Linked DNA regions of Homo sapiens: region 1 is linked to region 2. Evidence: fine-mapped expression QTL. A gene starts in region 2. The other region holds a variant in brackets. All regions are shown on one strand. Distances are from middle to middle. Region 1 overlaps NBPF10 (NBPF member 10). Region 2 holds the start of LINC01719 (long intergenic non-protein coding RNA 1719).

What was found.
Region 1: its variant is fine-mapped to the expression of LINC01719 in caudate (GTEx, PIP above 0.99). The same link has a PIP of 0.9 or more in putamen.

Annotation. Positions count from the first base shown.
Region 1 is chr1:146,131,810-146,141,470 of GRCh38, reverse strand. It overlaps NBPF10 (NBPF member 10), which reads left to right. Exons shown (of 90, transcript NM_001302371.3): 4 at 915-987; 5 at 1,451-1,662; 6 at 3,026-3,235; 7 at 5,016-5,118; 8 at 5,950-6,164; 9 at 7,206-7,278; 10 at 7,743-7,948; 11 at 9,234-9,285. Among named protein-coding and RNA genes, the nearest start is that of NBPF10, 8.2 kb to the left of the region's middle. The variant C/G (reference allele first, on the strand shown) is at 5,149.
Region 2 is chr1:146,047,481-146,057,141 of GRCh38, reverse strand. LINC01719 (long intergenic non-protein coding RNA 1719) reads right to left here and starts at 4,546. Exons shown (of 3, transcript NR_125968.1): 1 at 4,194-4,546. RNVU1-6 (RNA, variant U1 small nuclear 6) reads left to right here and starts at 4,898; the gene lies at 4,898-5,061. RefSeq lists enhancers at 4,228-4,959, 4,960-5,688 and a silencer at 4,809-5,048.

The DNA.
Region 1 (9,661 bases), 84 kb before region 2:
GACTTCCTGGGTAAGAACAGAGATGGGAAACCCATGGGTTTGGAGGTCACAGTATTGCAAGTGTCCCTCCTTCCTTGATGGAAGGTGGTCTTTGGAGCAAGAGGCAGCATCTATCTAGTTTTAAAGGACAGGAAGGAGGCTGTGATGGAAGGGTGCTTGTTGGAGTGAAAAGAGCTCTGGGCTAAGAATGAAGGTTCCCAGGCTGTATTTTTGGCAATGTTCTTAGTAAGTGTCAGTGAGTGATTTATCTTTTCAGAGTTTCTCTCTCTCCATCTGCAAAGGCAGACAAATTGTCTCTTGCAAGGGTCTGAAGCATCCAAATATGGGAACACTTACGAATGCTTTTCAAAATGAGATGAAGCCCCTCTCCATGTGGTGTTGGAGAAGGCACTTGATGTGGGGGCATTTGGTGGTAGGAAGTGCTTCAGACTGGAGCACTCCCCATGGATAGAATGTCCCTGAATAACACAGCAGAAGCCACATGGAGGGCCTGTGCAGTCTCATGACGCATAGAGGACTGTGGGACAAGTTTGTCCTCTCCTAAGAGAAAGAATGAGGTTTGAAATGCGAACTGTGACAGGACACCAAGCCTGTTCCTGGGAATCAGATCTGTGGCAGGATGGGGGAGACAGCTGCCAAAGTCCAGAGAGAGGCTGCACAAGCCTCCAGTGATATGGGAAGCAAAAGGTCTTTTCGGTATTTGGCCACATCTTGATGGTGGCCCTCCACATCAGAAATGCATTGCCCGATGGAGCAGGAAACCATGCCAGGGCATTTTGTGAAAGATAAAACATGAGAGTTTTCAGTACAATGCTGAACCATACATAGATGTTCATGTCTCTGTGCACGTTGGGCTGGCTGTGCTTGCAGAATGTGAAGTGGGAAATATCTGAACGAACATTTTGTATTTCTAGAAAATGACGAAGATGAGGATGAAGATGTTCAAGTTGAGGAGGCTGAGAAAGTACTGGAATCATCTGCCCCCAGGTAACACTGAATACTCAGGAGCAAGTAATGGGTGGTAACGTATGAAAATGTCTAGGAGGCACACCCTCTCTGGCATCTATGATGGGCCAAATGCCCGCATTCCCTTGGCCACAGTATGTGAAATTGAACCCAGCTTAGACACAGGGTGCGGCAGCTGTCGTGTTTCTCTATGTGTGCCAAGTGTCATGTCTGTACCATGCAGGGATAGCTGAGTCTTCATCCTCCTCAGCTCCTATCTGTTCAGTGCACTGAACACCAGCTGCTCTCTTCCTCTCTGGCTCCCATGGCAGCCATGGTCTGTTGCAGAGAGAAGAGGATTGCCTGTTCCCTCTTTAAGGGAACCTCCGTTTTGCTTTCTGGAACCACTCTCTTAATGCCGCCTGTCAAAACCAGCTAGGACTCCCTGGGGTCCAATCCCTCTGTGTTTAATCTTCTGTCATCTCTGTCCCACCTGGCTCATCAGGGAGGTGCAGAAGGCTGAAGAGAGCAAAGTCCCTGAGGACTCACTGGAGGAATGTGCCATCACTTGTTCAAATAGCCACGGCCCTTGTGACTCCAACCAGCCTCACAAGAACATCAAAATCACATTTGAGGAAGACGAAGTCAACTCAACTCTGGTTGTAGACAGAGAATCCTCTCATGATGAATGTCAGGATGCTCTAAACATTCTCCCAGGTAGCCTCTATTTTCCTTGTGTCTCATACCTCTGTCTAGGCTATGGAAGATCAATTCTGAGGACAGGCTGTATATACACATATTGTTATTGTTTTAGTCAGAAACTAGGATGGAGCTAGGTGCTGTGACTCACACATATAATCACAGCACTTTGGAAGGCCCAAGTGGGACGATGACTTGAGTTCAGGAGTTGAAGACCAGCCTACACAATATGGTGAAACCCATCTTTACAAAGAATACAAAAAATTAGGCAGGCATGGTGCTGCACGCCTATAGTCCCAACTGCTCAGGAGACTTAGGTGGGAGGATGGGCTGAGATGATCCTCCCACTCTCATTCACTTCTGTCAGGCTAGACTCTCTCTCCTTTTCATTGGCTTGTCTTAGCTATTAATAAGTCTCGGCTGGGCGCAGTGGGTCACACCTGTAATCCGAGCACTTTGGGAGGCCGAGGCGGGTGGATCATGAGGTCAGGAGATTGAGACCATCCTGGCTAACACGGTGAAACCCCGTCTTTACTAAAAATACAAAAAAAAAAAAAAAAATAGCTGGGCGTGGTGGTGGGCGCCTGTAGTCCCAGCTACTCAGGAGGCTGAGGCAGGAGAATGGCATGAACCCAGGAACCGGAGCTTGCAGTGAGCCGAGATTGTGCCACTGCACTCCAGCCTGGGAGACAGAGCGAGACTCCATCTCAAAAAAAAAAAAAAAAAAAAAAAAAGTAAGTCTCTGACCAGGGGCGCTGGCTCACATCTTAATCCCAGCACTTTGGGAGGCTGAGGTGGGCGGAACACCTGAGCTCAGGAGTTCGAAACCAGCCTGTCCAAGATGGCGAAACCCCGTCTCTACTAAAAATACAAAAATTAGCTGGCATGTTACTTGGCGCTTGTAATCCCAGATGCTTGGCAGGCTGAGGGATGAGAATCGCTTGAACCCGGGCGGCAGAGGTGGCAGTGAGCTGAGATTGTGCCTCTGCACTGCAGCCTGCGTGACAGAGTGAGACTCCGTCTCAAACAAAAAACAAAAAACCAAAAAAGAAAAAAATTAAAAAAGCAAAATGAAATCTTTTGTGCTACACAGAAACATTGGCCACTCATGGGGTAAAAATCTCAGGGCCAAGCCTTGCTTTATAGAAACGTATAAGCAAGAAAAGTGTAGAAGTGTTTATGTCCTGGTTTCAAGGTGACTGCATAGCTAAGACAAGTTGACTTAAAGGAGATCAAGACTGGAGATGACAAGAGTGAAACCAGGGAAACATCATCTTCAAATAAGTAAACAAGGCTGCCAGTGACATCCCTCAGTCCTGATTAAGCCTATTTGATTTCACCAGTTTTTAACCCATCATGTGTTTGCCTTTCTTCTCCCCAGTCCCTGGCCCCACCTCTTCTGCCACAAACGTCAGCATGGTGGTATCAGCCGGCCCTTTGTCCAGCGAGAAGGCAGAGATGAACATTCTAGAAATCAATGAGAAATTGCGCCCCCAGCTGGCAGAGAAGAAACAGCAGTTCAGAAACCTCAAAGAGAAATGTTTTCTAACTCAACTGTCCGGCTTCCTGGCCAACCAACAGAAGAAATACAGTAAGATCTATAGGCTCACCATCATGAAAGTGATGAATGATATCCTGTCTTCTCTCTGAGACACTAAATGCTCTCTCCATCAAAAATAATTTCATCCTTCCTGTACTTCTAGGAAAACAGAAATGGGTATTTTAACATTTTGTCAAAGTTGGAAGACAGAGGTACCAAAGTATTTAGCAACTTTCCATGTTTGCAATCAGGTGGGGGTGGGACTAGAGTTAAACTGCCATTTATTGATTTCTGACACAGGCACAGAATGACCTGTTTTCTCCAAGAGGCTCAATCGTGTTTTCAAGAATCCTCTCTGTACCATATAAGATCCTGCAGACAAATAACATCTAGTCTGTTGTTCTAAATGTCTGAGACTAGTGAACTTTTATTCAGTTCAAGTTTCTGTTGAGGCCCAACAGGCAAAGCTCTGTTCTAGTGACTCTGAGGGGAACTTGGTGATAGTAGCCAGTACCTGCTCTGAGGGGCTTCAAGAGGAGTCTACTCCTAATAGAACCTGTGCTGTCTATAAGTGACAGCATCAAGAGCAGGGAGTAGGGGCCGTGCATGGTGGCTCACTCCTGTAATCCCAGCACTTTGGGAGGCTGAGGCGGGCAGATCATGAGGTCAGGAGTTTGAGACCAGCCTGGGCAACATGGAGAAACCCCATCTCCACTAAAAATACAAAAAGTAGATGGGCGTGGTGGCAGGTGACTGTAATCACCCCTGCTCAGGAGGCTGAGGCAGGAGAATCCTTTGAACCCAGGAGGCTGAGGTTGCAGTGAGCCAAGATTTTGCCATTGCACTCCAGCCTGGGCGACAGGGCAAGACTGTTAAAAATAATAATAATAATAATGATAAATAAAAATAAGAATAAAAAGCAGAGAGTAGCTTGGTGAGAGTGAAGTCCTGCTTCCTGGGGCACAGAGTCTTGTTGCTAAAGAGGAAGAAAGATCGCACCCGAGAATGTGTGGAGATAGCAGTGCAGTGTACAGAGCAGGGACCGTGGGCCTGTCTCCTGGGCTCCATCCAAGTTGCTTGTCTTGTCTGTCCCTCAGTTTCCTCACCTGTTCAGAGGGTACTACAATAATACCTACCTCTGTAAATTGCTGCAGTGAATTACATGAGCTATTTCTTGTCAATCTCCTAGAACATTTATTGGCACACAGTAAACACTATCTATTAGTTCTTCATTCTGCTGTTTCTAAATTAACACAAACTTTATTAGCATTTGGGCATATTTCCTTCATGGCCTTATGGTGTTATGTGTCACACTTTATGCTTCAGATATGATTCTTAAAATCATAACTGAAGATATGATTTAAAAATCAAAGATTTTAAAAATCTTTCGCATACTTGTCCTTGAAATTCCCAGTAAAAGGGAAACCATCAGTCCCATAGTCCTAGGGGCCTTCCCGACTGTACAAGAAATCACTACTTCATGCCCCAGTGCAGTGTTTTAGAGGAGAGGCTGCAAGGCTTGGGAAAGTGGCCCCGCATTCAGAGTCAGACCTCAGGGACTGTGAATTCTGACTCCACTTCATTGTGGTTGAATCATCTTGTCAACTTCCTTGATGTGCCCTTGAGGTTCTCTTTCTTCATCTCTAAATTTTGGAGGATCAGATGCCAGAAAGTCAGGAGACTGAAGAGTAAAGATGTGGAAATCCCTGTCTAGACCCTGGTACTGGGGAGAGTTTTGTCCTTGGGATGGACCTGGCTCCTGTCCTGTAGGCAATGACCACAGCAGCATGTCCAGCCTTCCACTGAGGCAGGTGTGTCTGTCTTTTCTCAGAATATGAAGAGTGCAAAGACCTCATAAAATTTATGCTGAGGAATGAGCGACAGTTCAAGGAGGAGAAGCTTGCAGAGCAGCTCAAGCAAGCTGAGGAGCTCAGGTGAGGGGACCCCATGGGGGCAGGCAGGGG[C/G]GCAGGTGTGTAAATCTCTGAAGTACAGCAGCTCGGTGGGGAGACGTAAGAGCTAAGCTGGGCCAGGGGAAGGGCAGGAATTGCCATGGCAGGCTCGCTACACACAAATATTTATCAGAGAAGAAGGATAGTAAAAATGTATGGGTTGCAGTTGTTTCTCAGAGCCTTGTTTTCTCTTTTTCAAACAAGTAATTGTTGATGTGAAATTTACATAACACAAAATTAACCAAAGGAGTGTGAACCACACAGCAGCATTCAGTATACTCAAAATGGTGTGCCATCACCACCCCACTTACCCTTAGTGAGAATCACCTCCTGACTGACTGCGGCTTCTCATTCTTTCACTCAATCAATGTTGCCTTCTCGACCCTGTCCTTCTTTTCTTCTTTCATCTTTTCAATTCGCCCCATCTGCACCTGGCCTCATTTCTGTACATGGCTTTGTATCTAGTGGCCGCAAGATGCACTATGTGTATTTTCACATGGAAATGTCCATGGCCAGAGTGAGGAACTGAAAGGATGTCTTTTTGAAACGGAATTAGGAAGACACCTACTTTTGTTTACAGAAGAGAAAGATGAATGGAACATCATCGAGGATCTTGCAAGAGCCCTCTCTGATACAGAGGAAGCCTGTAAACCATTTTCTATTCTTTCTCTTGGCCACAGACATTCCTTTCCACATGTGCTGACCTTCTGCTTCGAGGTCTCCTTGAGGACATTGTCTCAGAAATCTCTGTTGCAATATTTGAGCGGATCACTCAACCCTTTCCACTCTTAAATTTTCTCTACCGTCTCACCTTAGGCAATATAAAGTCCTGGTTCACGCTCAGGAACGAGAGCTGACCCAGTTAAAGGAGAAGTTACGGGAAGGGAGAGATGCCTCCCGCTCATTGAATGAGCATCTCCAGGCCCTCCTCACTCCGTATGAGCCGGACAAGTCCCAGGGGCAGGACCTCCAAGAACAGCTGGCTGAGGGGTGTAGACTGGCACAGCACCTTGTCCAAAAGCTCAGCCCAGGTAAGGTGGCCATAGGCCCTGATGACCCAAAATCCCAGGCTTATGAGAGACTCCAGACCTCCATACTTTCACAATGACAGTTGTATCAATGGTGTTTTTTTCCACTAAGCTTATGTGGCCATGACATGACCAGGACTTCTTGGGTAAGAACGGAGATGGGAAACCCATGGGGTTGGAGGTCACAGTATTGCAAGTGTCCCTCCTCCCTTGATGAAAGGTGGTCTTTGGAGCAAGAGGCAGCATCTGTCTAGTTTTAAAGGACAGGAAGGAGGCTGCGATGGGAGCAGGCTTGTTAGAGTGAAAAGAGCTCAGGACTAAGAATGAAGGTTCCCAGGCTGTCTTTTCGGCAATGTTCTTAGTAACTGTCAGAGAGTGAATGACTTGTCCTTCCTGAGTTTCTCTCTCTCCGTGGCAGACAAATTGTCTCTTGCAAGGGTCTGAAGCATTCAAATGTGGGAACACTTACAACTGCTTTCCAAAATGAGATGAAGGCCCTTGCCGTGTGATGTTGGAGAAGGCACTTTATGTGGGGGCGTTTTGTGGTAGGAAGTGCTTCAGACTGGAGCACTCCCCATGGATAGAATGTCCCTGAAGAACACAGCAGAAGCCACTTGGAGGCTTGAAATCTTCTGATGCATAGAGGACTGTGGGACAAGTTTGTCTGCTTCTAAGAGAAAGAATGAGGTTTGAAATGCAAACCGTGACAGGACACCAAGCCTGTGCCTGGGAATCAGATCTGGCAGGATGGGGGAGACAGCTGCCAACGTCCAGAGAGAGGCTGCACAAGCCTCCAGTGATATGGGAAGCAAAAGGTCTTTTCAATATTTGGCCACATCTTGATGGTGGCCCTCCAGATCAGAAATGCATTGCCTGATGGATCAGGAAACCATGCCAGGGCATTCTGTTAAAGATAAAACATGAGAGTTTTCAGTTGAACGGTGACCCATGCCTAGATGTTCATGTCTCTGTTGCACATTGGGCTGACTGTGCTTGCAGACTGTGAAGTGGGAAATACCTGAACGAACACTTCTGTATTTGCAGAAAATGACAACGATGACGATGAAGATGTTCAAGTTGAGGTGGCTGAGAAAGTGCAGAAATCATCTGCCCCCAGGTAACACTGAATACTCAGGAACAATTAATGGATGGTAACATATGAGGAATATCTAGGAGGCACACCCTCTCTGGCATCTATGATGGGCCAAAAACCCGCATTCGCTTGGCCACAGTATGTGAAATATAATCCAGCTTAGACACAGGGTGCGGTAGCTGTCATGTTTCTCTATGTGTGCTGAGTGTCATGTCTGCACCGTACAGGGATAGCTGAGTCTTCATCCTCCTCAGCTCCTATCTGTCCAGTGCAATGAACAGCAGCTGCTCTCTTCCTCTCTGGTTCCCATGGCAGCCATGCTCTGTTGCAGAGAGAACAGGATTGCATGTTCCCTCTTAATGGGAACCTCCATTTTGCTTTCTGGGACCACTCTCTTAATGCCGCCTGTCAAAACCAGCTAGGACTCCCTGGGGTCCAATCCCTCTGTGTTTAATCTTCTGTCATCTCTGTCCCACCTGGCTCATCAGGGAGATGCAGAAGGCTGAAGAAAAGGAAGTCCCTGAGGACTCACTGGAGGAATGTGCCATCACTTATTCAAATAGCCATGGCTCTTATGACTCCAACCAGCCACATAGGAAAACCAAAATCACATTTGAGGAAGACAAAGTCGACTCAACTCTCATTGGCTCATCCTCTCATGTTGAATGGGAGGATGCTGTACACATTATTCCAGGTAGCCTCTGTTTTCCTTGTGTCTCATACCTCTCTCTAGGCTGAGAAAGATAAACTCTGAAGACAGGCTCTATAAACACAAATTCATTTGAATAAAAAACTGTGATGGGTTTCTAAACAGATATCAGGGAGTTTGTTTGTCCTTCTCAGCTAATGTCATGACTTTGTCTGCCAGTCCCCAGTATCAAGTTACTCAACCCCAGGCAAGTGTGACAATCTCATAGTCACCTGAGTGCAGGAGGTGCACAGGCAGTATCTGTCAGGCCTCCTATCTTCGATTCAGTATCTCTTGTCATCTGTGATTAAGTCATCTGTCCCTGAACAATGTCCATGGAGTTTCTATGCCTGTTTAAGGAAGCTGGCAGCCTTGCCTTTGTATTTGGAAATATTGTTCCCCAGGCTTCACTGCTCTCAGCTTTCATCTGGATCTCCTTTAAGTCAGCTTGCTTAGCTGCACAGTCACCCTGAAATCAGGACGGAAACTTTTCTTCTTTACTTTGCTGATATATTTCCATAAAGCAAGGCTGGACCCTGGTTCTCCACCCTGTCAATGCAATGGCTGATCCAATGTTTCTTTGTAGCATCGTGGATTTTTTTTTTTTTTTTTTTTGCAATGGAGTCTTGCTCTGTCACCCAGGCTGGAGTGCAGTGGCACCATCTTGGCTTGGTGCAACCTCTGCCTCCCAGATTCAAGTGATTCTCCTGCCTCAGCCTCCTGAGTTGCTGGGACCACAGGTGCACAACATCACATCTGGCTAATTTTTGTATTTTTAGTAGAGACAGGGTTTCCCCATATTGGCCAGGGTAGTCCTGAACTCATGACCTCAAATGATTCACCTGTCTTGGCCTCCCAAATCACAGATTCTTTTTAAAGCAAGAGTTGTTCAAATTTATCTATCAGTCGTGTTTCATGTATAGATGCCTCTAAACATTTAATGTCCATGTTACCTGGTGATATAAGTCCGTATCGCAGCAACACTCTTAGAAAATTGTTTGACCAATTTTTGGAGATTTTTTTGGGGAAAAAATTTTGTTTAACTTTGACTCAGGCAGGGAATATGGCATTATGGTCTACACGTAGAGGGAGATTTTGGCCTGTGGGTCTGGAAAGCAGGGTCATCTAATTCTCACCAAAGTTAATCTAGGACACCCTAGAATATTCCTGTCAGAATCCTTATTCTTGCACTGAGAATAGTTATGTCCTTGTGCTATGACTGGACAGTGATTTGTTCATATGTGAAGTATGAATTGCTTAATGTGACCTGCTTCTCTGAATTTATTTACAGAAAATGAAAGTGATGATGAGGAAGAGGAAGAAAAAGGGCCAGTGTCTCCCAGGTAATGTTGTGGAATTGTTGGCTGTTAATTCAGTAGTGACATCTGGAGATTGTAGATTTAGGGAAAATGAGGAAGTGATGAATAGAACTATTTCTTCCATTCACCCAGCTACAAATTGTGCTGATTTACAATGTTGTATGTTATTTGTGGCACTTGTATTGGTTTTAATTTCATAGTCCTCTCAAGATAGGAACTTGCCATCAGATGAGCCAGGTGAACTAGCCAAACAGGGTTTTCTTGTTGATCTTTTCAAAAAACCAGCCCTGGATTCATTGATTTTTTGAAGGGTTTTTTGTGTCTCTATCTCCTTTAGTTCTGCTCTGATCTTAGTTACTTCTTGTCTTCTGCTAGCTTTTGAATTTGTTTGCTTTGCTTC
Region 2 (9,661 bases):
GCTGTGCAGAAGCCTCTGCATAACCTCCCTGGTCCCCTTGCTCAGTCTCCTGGCCAGACCCCTGTGAGCCCTGGAAGTGCACAGTCAGCTTAGCCAAGGCATCTCCAGCTGGGACTCATCCCTGGGCATTTCTGTGGCCTTGGGTTCCCTGGCCTCCTCCAGGCCCTGTCTTGCAGGCAATCGTCCTGCTAGGGAAGGGGGAAAGGAGGCTACTTGACAGTTAACTCTGAGCAGCTCCACAAGGTCCTGACTTAGCTCCTAGTCACTTGCAAACCTATATACCCCCATCTCATCCCCCAAACGATGAAAAGAAACTTTGCAGGACTCATGCCAGACAAATAGAGTGGGACCGTTCTGTAGAGCCAAGTTCTCAGGACATCAATAAGAGATGGAAACCACCTGCTGGAAGGTGCCACAGTGGGAACTTTGGGGCCAGGGAGCAGTCACTGAACTGTCAGGGTGAATCCTGGCTCCTGGCCCTCACACACCCTTTCTCCCCCTCCCTCCTTCTCTCCTCCCTCCTGTCTGCTCTTTCCCCTCTCTCTCCTGAATCCCTCAGGTACCTTCCATGGGCCCTGACCCCTCCTTTTCAGAGGCTCCAAAGTGAGCCCTCAAAACACTTGGTAACCTTGGACACTTCCAAAACTGGAGAGACTTGACCACAGCATTTTTATGAGCTAGGAAGGTCCTCCAGAGCTCTTGCCTAAATTTTTCTGCTGATGAGAAGAGAACAAGAGTTTCCATCTGATCTGGTCCTAAGGCAACTTCTCCTTGGAGCAGAGTCTGGGCAGGAAGAAGGGGGTTGCCCAGGACCCTGGACTTGCCCCTCCCAGCTGCTCTGCTCCTCTCCCCTTCACTGCGGGAGGCTGGCCAGGGATCAGGAACCTCCGTTCTCCACAGATGCTGGGATTCCAGGCTCAAATCTAAATATTGGCTGATTTAGGAGGCGAAGGGAGGCAATTCCCTGGAGGGAGGTGTCAGGATTTGGGACAAGAGCAGCATCTAGTTGTCATCCACAGAGACCCCAAGGACAGGAATCCACTGGTAGCCGGTTGGAGGGGATCCCATGAAAACAAGATGAAACGCGCCATTAGTACTGGACCCAAGATCAGGAGATGAAAAACTGCACTGTCCTAAGGGATGAAAGAATTAGGGAATCCTGGAAGTAAAGTTTTTCATATAGGTCATTTCTTCCAAAGAGACATAGGGCAATGGCCCAATGACATGAACAAAAGAAAACTCGGGGTCTAGGATTGAGGGGAGGCAGCCTTTTTAGTGGAGACCTGTGACCTGGAGGCCCAGGGTCACCCTGAGAGGGGAGGGGTCTTGCTGGTCGCTGGGTCCGGGACTCCAATTGCACACAGCCAGTGGCATGGAGGGTCTGTGACCACGATTGGGCAATTTCCCCCATTCTGCTTATGGAGCAATAGAGAGGAACCTCACTGGAATTATACAGAAAGGTCCCAGTGAGACTTGAACTCTGATCACTGTATTCAGAGTCCAAAGTGCTCACCATTACACCATGGAACCTCACACTAGCTTATAACTGGAGGTAACTGAGTTCATACTTAGCAGCCATAGTTCCCACACACCTATGTTAAGGCATTTCTTCTGATCCCTCAAGCAACACCAAGGAAGGTGGACCTGCGAGAGAGGAGTCATCCTCTTTCTTTCTTTCTCTCTGCCCTCTCCTTTGATCAACTTTTATCATTTCATTTGCACCTCAGAAAATGAGGCAAAATCCAGTTTGGGCTTAGGGCCAGAGAAGAGCCCTTGAGGCCTCCCTCTGGAAAACATACTCTCTCAGTTTACCAGAGTTTCCTGTACCAAGGGGAAATTTCCGCAAACAGTAGTGTTATATTCTTTTTGCCTTCCCTCTTTTCCCTTTGCCCAGGGAGGCCAGATGATTGTGAGAACAGGACTTGGGACTTCCTGTGTGTCTTGCCCCCTTCCTCCATGTGATAAATAATGGCTGACACCAAGCAAGTGGGATTGGGAGGCAGGGAATCTTTCATTTTCTTCTTCATATACTTCTACGCATTTGTTTGGTTGGTTTTGGCAAGATTTTCTCACCAGAAATGGAGATTTGTTGGATTTAAAATAAAAAGTAATCAGCCATGTTTTACATTTCTATAAAACACTCAAACCAGGCCATACTCCCCTGCTGTGCCTCAAAATCAACCATAAACTGTCGAGGTCAGGAGGCAGGGCCCTCACACTTAAGCACAGTGTGTTTCCTCAGAATTGGCCAAGTTGATGCCACTCCAATTTCTCAATATACCACAACCCATTAATTGCGGTTTTTAAAAGTGTACATGTATTTTTACCAAAACCCCAGGGCTTCAGTGTTCTCAGCACACAGAAAGACAATCATTGAGACATTGAGTATTGCTGAGGAAGAAGGCTTTAATCAGGTGCTGCAGCTGAGTAGACAGGAGATGAGTCTCAAATCTGTCTCCCTGATTGACTAAAGTTAGGGGTTTATATAGCGCAGAAGAAAAGTTAACTGTGTGTGGGAAAAGAGGAACTAGAGAGGGGTGAGGAAGCACTCGTGATGAGTGAGGGGACTGGCATCTCATTGTCTGGATGCTGTGATTGGCTGAGTTTCGGGTCTCTGATGCTTTTTGAGAGGCCTGAGAGTCCTTTCCTGAGGAAGGAACTCAGATAAAACAAATGTAAGTTTGTTTTATAGAATGGCTTGACCTCAGGAGTTTGAAACCAGCCTGGGCAATATGGTGAAACCCTGTCTCTACCAAAATACAAAAAGAAAAAGAGGGTTGCTTCCAAGATGGCTGAATAGGAACAGCTCCGGTCTACAGCTTCAAGTGAGATAGACGCAGAAGACAGGTGATTTCTGCATTTCCAACTGAGGTACCTGGTTCATCTCACTGGGACTCGTTGGACAGTGGATGCAGCCCACGGAGGATGAGCCAAAGCAGGGTGGGGTGTCGCCTCACCCGGGAAGTGCAAGGGGTTGGGGGATTTCTTTTTCCTAGCCAAGGGAAGCTGTGAGTGACTGTACCTCGAGAAGCAGTACACCCCTGCCCAAATACTGTGCTTTTTTCCACTGTCTTTGCAACCGACAGACCAGGAGATTCCCTCTTGTGCCTGGCTCGGCAGGTCCCATGCCCATGGAGCCTTGCCTGCTGCTAGCACAGCAGTCTGAGATCAACCTGTGACACTGGAGCATGGCAGGGGGAGGGGGTTCTGCCACTGCTGAGGCTTGAGTATGTGGTTCTATGGTCACAGTGTAAATAAAGTGGTAGGGAAGCTCGAACTGGGTAGAGCCCACTGCAGCTCAGCAAGGCCTACTGCCTCTAGATTCCACCTCTGGGGGCAGGGCATATCTGAATAAAAGGCAGCAGACAGCTTCTGCAGACTTAAACGTCCCTGCCTGACAGCAGGGACTGCTGTCATAATCATTATGATTATGAATCATAATCATGAAGACAATCTGTATTCCAGAATAGTAAGGGAACCTATTCCATCAGGGAGCCAACTGAAAACATCAAATCCCAGTTCACACCCCAGGGTGTGGTGTCATGCACCTGTAGTCCCAGCTACTTGGGAGGATTAGTAAGGAGGTTTGCTTGAATTCGTGAGGTCAAGGCAGAAGTAAACCCTGATCATGCCACTGTACTCCAACCTGGGCGACAGTGAGACCTTGTCTCAGAAACAAACAAACAAACAAAAAACCCCACAAAACCAAACAACAACAAATTGTCACCTCATTCTGAAATGACAGTGGCAAACATCACTTTGCTATTTGAAAATTAAAAGAAGCCGGGCGCGGTGGCTCACGCCTGTAATCCCAGCACTTTGGGAGGCCGAGGTGGGCGGATCACAAGGTCAGGAGATCGAGACCATCCTGGCTAACAGAGTGAAACCCCATCTCTACTAAAAATACAAAAAATTAGCCGGACGTGGTGGCAGGTGCCTGTAATCCCAGCTACTGGGGAGGCTGAGGCAGGAGAATGGCGTGAACCCGGGAGGCGGAGCTTGCAGTGAGCCGAGATAGCCCCACTGCACTCCAGCCTGAGCGAAGAGCGCGAGACTCCGTCTCAAAACAAAAAAAAAGAAAATTAAAAGAAAAACACTCCCTCTTGCTATCAACCTGCCCTCTTGCTCTAACTTGTCTGACCCATGGTTTAAAATGCCCAAAAGCTGATGTACTCAAATTATAGTACACTTACCTGTTCTGCACCAGCATTTACTTTTGTCTGGAGGAGATCACCATGCATGGTCCTATACATGTCTAATGGCATGGAATGATGAAGGGTAGTGTCTTTTAGGATAGTTGGATACATATATATATATATATATATATATATATATATATATATGCGGAATGCTACATCACAAGAATAAGAATGTGAAAAGAACCAGTTTCTTTTGTAATCCTAAACGTTCTAGTCTGAGAATTAAAAGCCATTGTTCGAAGAAGGGTGCCCAGGGTCCAGCTGGTCGCCGAAAGCTTGCTCCGCAATACAGGCTAAGGACCAGCTTCTTTGGAAGAGAACAGATGAGGGAAGCAGGAGAGAAAAAAGGGAGAGGCAGACGTCACTTCCCCTTGCCGGCTCCGGCAGCGGGTTGGTCGGCTGAGCGGCAGAAAGGCAGACGGGGACTGGGAAAGGCGCTGTCGGTGACATCACGGATAGGGCGACTTCTATGTAGATGAGCCAGCGCAGGGGCTGCTGCTTCGCCACATGCTGCTTCGCCACGAAGGAGTTCCCGTGCCGTGGGAGCGGGTTCAGGACCGCTGGTCGGACCTGAGAGTCCCAGCTGTGTGTCAGGGCTAGGAGGGCTGGGGGGGAGGGGGGTGTGCGCGGGGCAAGTGACCGTGCGTGTAAAGGGTGAAGCGTGTGAGGCTGCCGGCGGGGCGGAGGTGCAATAACTCATACTTACCTGGCAGGAGAGATACCCTGGTCACGAAGGTGGTTTTTCCAGAGCGAGTCTTATCCATTGCACTCCGGATCTGCTGACCCCTGCAGTTTCCCCAAATGTGGGAAACTTGACTGTATAATTTGTGGCAGTGGTAGACTGCATTCGCGCTTTCCCCTGTATTTTTGTCGTTTTAAAAATAGGTTTTGTTTGCTGCAGAAACGCATACTGGGCGTCAGCGTAAGCTGAGAATCAGGTCTTTGTTCCCATCTGTAACTTCACTGAAACTAAAAATTTGGGACATCGTGGTTCTCACGTTTGTAATCCCAGCAATCTATGAGGTACGTCGATAGGTTATGTTTATGTTAATATCGCTCGACCTCAGGCGTGTGTGGGCAAATATAGTGAACCCGTCTCTACTAATCTCTTATCTTTTTTTGTTGTTGTTCTATAGAAATAAAACTAAGCTTTTCTTTTCCCTATGGGATTAACAGCAAACAGTCCGCTGGAGTGTATGGCGCGATCTCGCCTTACTGCAACCTTTGCCTCCTGCGTTCAAGCTATTCTCCTTCCTCAACCAGAGAATACTCAGCCTCCCGAGTAACTGGCATTACAGGCTCAGGCAACCAAAAAATTAGGTCCGGCTAATTTTTTGAATTTTTAGTAGAGACATGGTTTCACCGGGCCGGGCGCACTGGCTCGCGCCTGTAATCCCAGCACTTTGGGAGGCGGAAGCGGGTGGATCATGAGGTCAGGAGGTCAAGACCATCCTGGCTAACACAGTGAAACCCCATCTCTAATAAAAATACAAAAAAAAAAAATTAGCCGGGTGTGGTGGCACGTGCCTGTAGTCCCAGCTACTCAGGAGGCTGAGGCAAGAGAATCGCTTGAACCCGGGAGGCAGAGGTTGCAGTGAGCTGAGATCGCACCACTGCACTCCAGCCTGGGCGACAGAGTGAGACTCCGTCTCAAAAAAAAAAAAAAAAAAAAAGAGTGACAGGGTTTCACCATGTTGGCCACCCTGGTCTTGAACTCCTGACCTCAAGTTTTCCGCCTGCCTCGCGGCCTCCCAAAATGTTGGGATTACAGGCCTGAGCCACCGCACCTGGCCTGTTTACAGACTTTACAGACACATTTTGTTTACAAGCTTTACAGGTACAGTTCAATTGCGATTAGTGTATATTATGTTTGGCCCAAGACAAGTGTCTTTTTTTTTTTTCCAGTGTGGCCCAAGGAAGCCAAAATTTAGACAACCCTGCTCTAGAGGGTTTGATTCATGGTTCCACTGGGTTATGCTTATTGCCTATAATTCCATTTGATATTTTCCAAATTTGATTTTTTAAAAAGCGTTTTCCTGAAGCACCCTAAAGCTTTCCTAATAATATGAGAACTTAAACCAGATTGGATGTGACAAAACCCTGCTGGAATCCTGCAACTTCTAACCTTAATGTTAGATCAAGAAGCAAAACACCCACCAGTCCAAGGGTCAGGGAAGCTGAAGATCATGCCTGAGCTGTAACAACGCCCTTCCCAGTATACAAAAGAGTGTAACAGCCACTCGAATTCTATCTTCCAAGTGTCTCCTGTTGCCCAGGCTAACCTAGAGCTATCTAAAGATGGCAAATCTGGGAAATGTGCATTCAGCTTGGCAAAACTGATACATTACAAATCCACCACAGTCCACTTCTTCTCAAAGTGGCATCAATGTACATCTTCCTCCTCTTCTTTTTTTCCTCCTCTTCCTCTTCTTTTGCTTCTTCCTCCTCCTTTTTCCTCCTTGTAAAATCATACTTAAGGTTCAAATAAAGACAATATGAAAATCATACTTTTTCTCATTCAGTGAAAATATGCCAACCCTTTCCCCAACAGGATAAAGTCTTTGTCTTTGAATGATGTTCACTCCTTTTTTAGCTAGATAGATCACATTCCATATTTGCTTTCCTGTAACCTAAATATTGAGATTTCTAAAAGTTAATTATTAATGAATGTGCTAGCTAGGGTGATGGAAGAGGAGAATTCTCAAGAAAAGTTTTGGTTAATATACACCCAAATGTATTCATCTCAAAATAATGAAGAAATACTCATAACTATTACAAGTCCTGATTTCTGCAACTGGCACTGGCACTAGCTGGTATTTGTAACTATCTTCACATCTTGTACCCACAGCCAGTTCCTTTGGGCCTGGGCCGGTGGACGTGAGCGTGGGAAGGACAAGAACCCGCGGTGCCCCCCACCGCACTATCCTCGGGTCTCCAGAGGTGGGATCCACCGGGCAGGGGCCTTTGCTGGATTCTAAACCGGCTCTGGGGATACAAGAACAGCTGCCTTTGAGAAACAGTTCAGGTCTCTATATTCCAGACTTCCTAGTAGGACTAAACGCTTAACGTTCACACGGGAATTCATGGTTCTCCTAAAACCCTGCGGTGGAATGCCTTCCTTCACCAAGCATTTATTGGGCACCTACTAGGTGCTAGGCTGGCTCTGGGCGAAGGGCTGCAGCCTGTGCAAACTCCAGGTCCCTGTCCGGTGGATCCCACCTCTGAGGGCCCGAGGGTGACGCGGTGAGGACACCACGGGTTCTGGTCCTTCCCACGCGCGCGTCCGCTAGCCCAGGCCCGGCGGAAATGACTGTGAGCTCAAGGTGTGAAGCGGGGCTAAGAATGGGAAAGCGAGTGACTTCCGCCGGAGAAGCTGCAGTTGTCGCCTGTAGAGGGGCCGGCGACTTTTGAGACGGTGAAGAGCAGGCGGGGGAACCAGTGAAGAGCAGACGGTGAGGAGCAGGCGGCCGTTTGGCCGTTGGAGTCCCCCAGCTGACTCTGCCCGGGTAGAACGTCCAAAGTGCCCAAAGACTCGACTCTTGGCTTCAATGTCTCCCGTGTTCTGGGTTTCTGGAGTGCGCGGGATTGGACAGGCTACAAACATATGAGATTATCTACGGCCAGAGGTTAAAATGCCATTTCTGGTATCAGCAAATCTAAACCATTAGAGTCTCTGTGGCGCCATCGGTTAGTGCCTTCGGCTGTTTGAACCGAAAGGCTGGTGGTTCAAGCCCACCCAGAGATGGTACCTTTTACTTAGGCAAGATTCACGCTTTCTGTTTAAAGACTTTAATCCTGGGAATCTTCCGGACCTCTACTAGCTTTAAATTCGATGCCAAAATACGCTGTGCGAAGGCTCAAGTTCCATGGAAGTTCCTAAAAACAAGAATATTTCAGCAAAAGTAATTTTTCAATAGAGCCTGAGCCTGGGGCTTCAGAGCTTACTCCAGAGCCACTGCACTTATTTCATCACTTCCTGAAGCTGGGTTTTTACAACTGCACATTCCTGGAAATCCAAAACTCCCAATAATTGAAAACAAGAAAATCCCAGTCTTCACTTGTGGTGAAGCCTCAATTTCCAGGTTGAAATCTTGGTTGGTTCATGATGTGACTTTTAAAACGTTACTGAATTTTCTGTATCTCTATTTCTTCATCTATAAAAACAGAAAAAAAAAAGTGCTTCCCTTTCCTGGGTGTGGTGGCTCATGCCTGTAATTGCAGCAGTTTGGGAGGATGAGGCGGGCAGATCACCTAAGGTTAGGAGTTCGAGACCTGCCTGGTCAACTTGGTGAAACCCCATCTCTACTAAAAATACAAAAATGAGCTGGGCGTGGTGGCAGGTGCCTGTAATCCCAGCTACTTGAGAGGCTGAGGCAGGAGAATAGTTTGAACCCAGGAGGCAGAGGTTGCAGTGAGCCAAGATTGCGCCACTGCACTCCAGCCTGGTAACAGAGCCGACTCCATCTCAAAAAATAATAATAATAATAAATAAATAAACAATGCTTCTCTCATGGATTAATCTAACATTTGTGAATCCAAAAGTATGTGAGACAGGTCTCAATAAATTTAGAAAGTTTACCTTGCAAGGTTAAGGTGGCACCCATGACACAGTTTCAGGAGGTCCTGGCAACATGTGCCCAAGGTGGTCGGGTACAGCTTGCTTTTATTCATTTTAGGGAGACAGAATACATCGATCAATACATGTAAGATTTACACTGCTTCAATCTGGAAGGGCGGGACAACTCAAAGGGTGGGGGGCTTCCAGGTCATAGATTTAAAATTTTTCTGATTAGCTATTGGTTGAAAGAGTTCTTATTCCAGAAGGGAATTTCTGGGTTAGATAGGGGGTTGTGGAGACCAAGGTTTTACCATGCAGATGAAGCCTCCAGGTAGCAGGCTTCAGAGAAAATAGATTGTAAATGTTTCTTATCAGACTTAAGGTCTGTGTTGATGTTAATGCTGGTTGGCTTTTCCTGAGTTCCAAAAGGAAGGAGGGTATAATGAGGCATGTCCAACTTCTTCCCATCATGGCCTGAACTAGTTTTTCAGGTTAACTGTGGAATGACCTTGACCTAGAGCAGGGGTCCATTCACATGGCTGGGGGGCCTTAGAATTTTATTTTTGGTTACACATTTGATGAGAAATACACATAAAGCATTTGAGCACCTAATAAATGTTCATTAAACGTTAGCTGCTATAATTATTTTCAGTGGCATCATCATCACCACTTTCATATTTTACCTCAGGCTTTTAAACAACTGCTTATCTTTTTATGGTATGGATGAACCAGTATATATTTAAATGGCCCTCAGCTAATGGACACAAAATTGTGTCTAATGCTTATTCTTATAAAAAATTATTCAGAGAACATCCTTATACAACTATCTTTCATCATTTGTGCAGGGATTTCTTTTTTTTTTTTTTTTTTTTTTTTTTTTTTTTTTTTTTTTTTTGAGACGGTG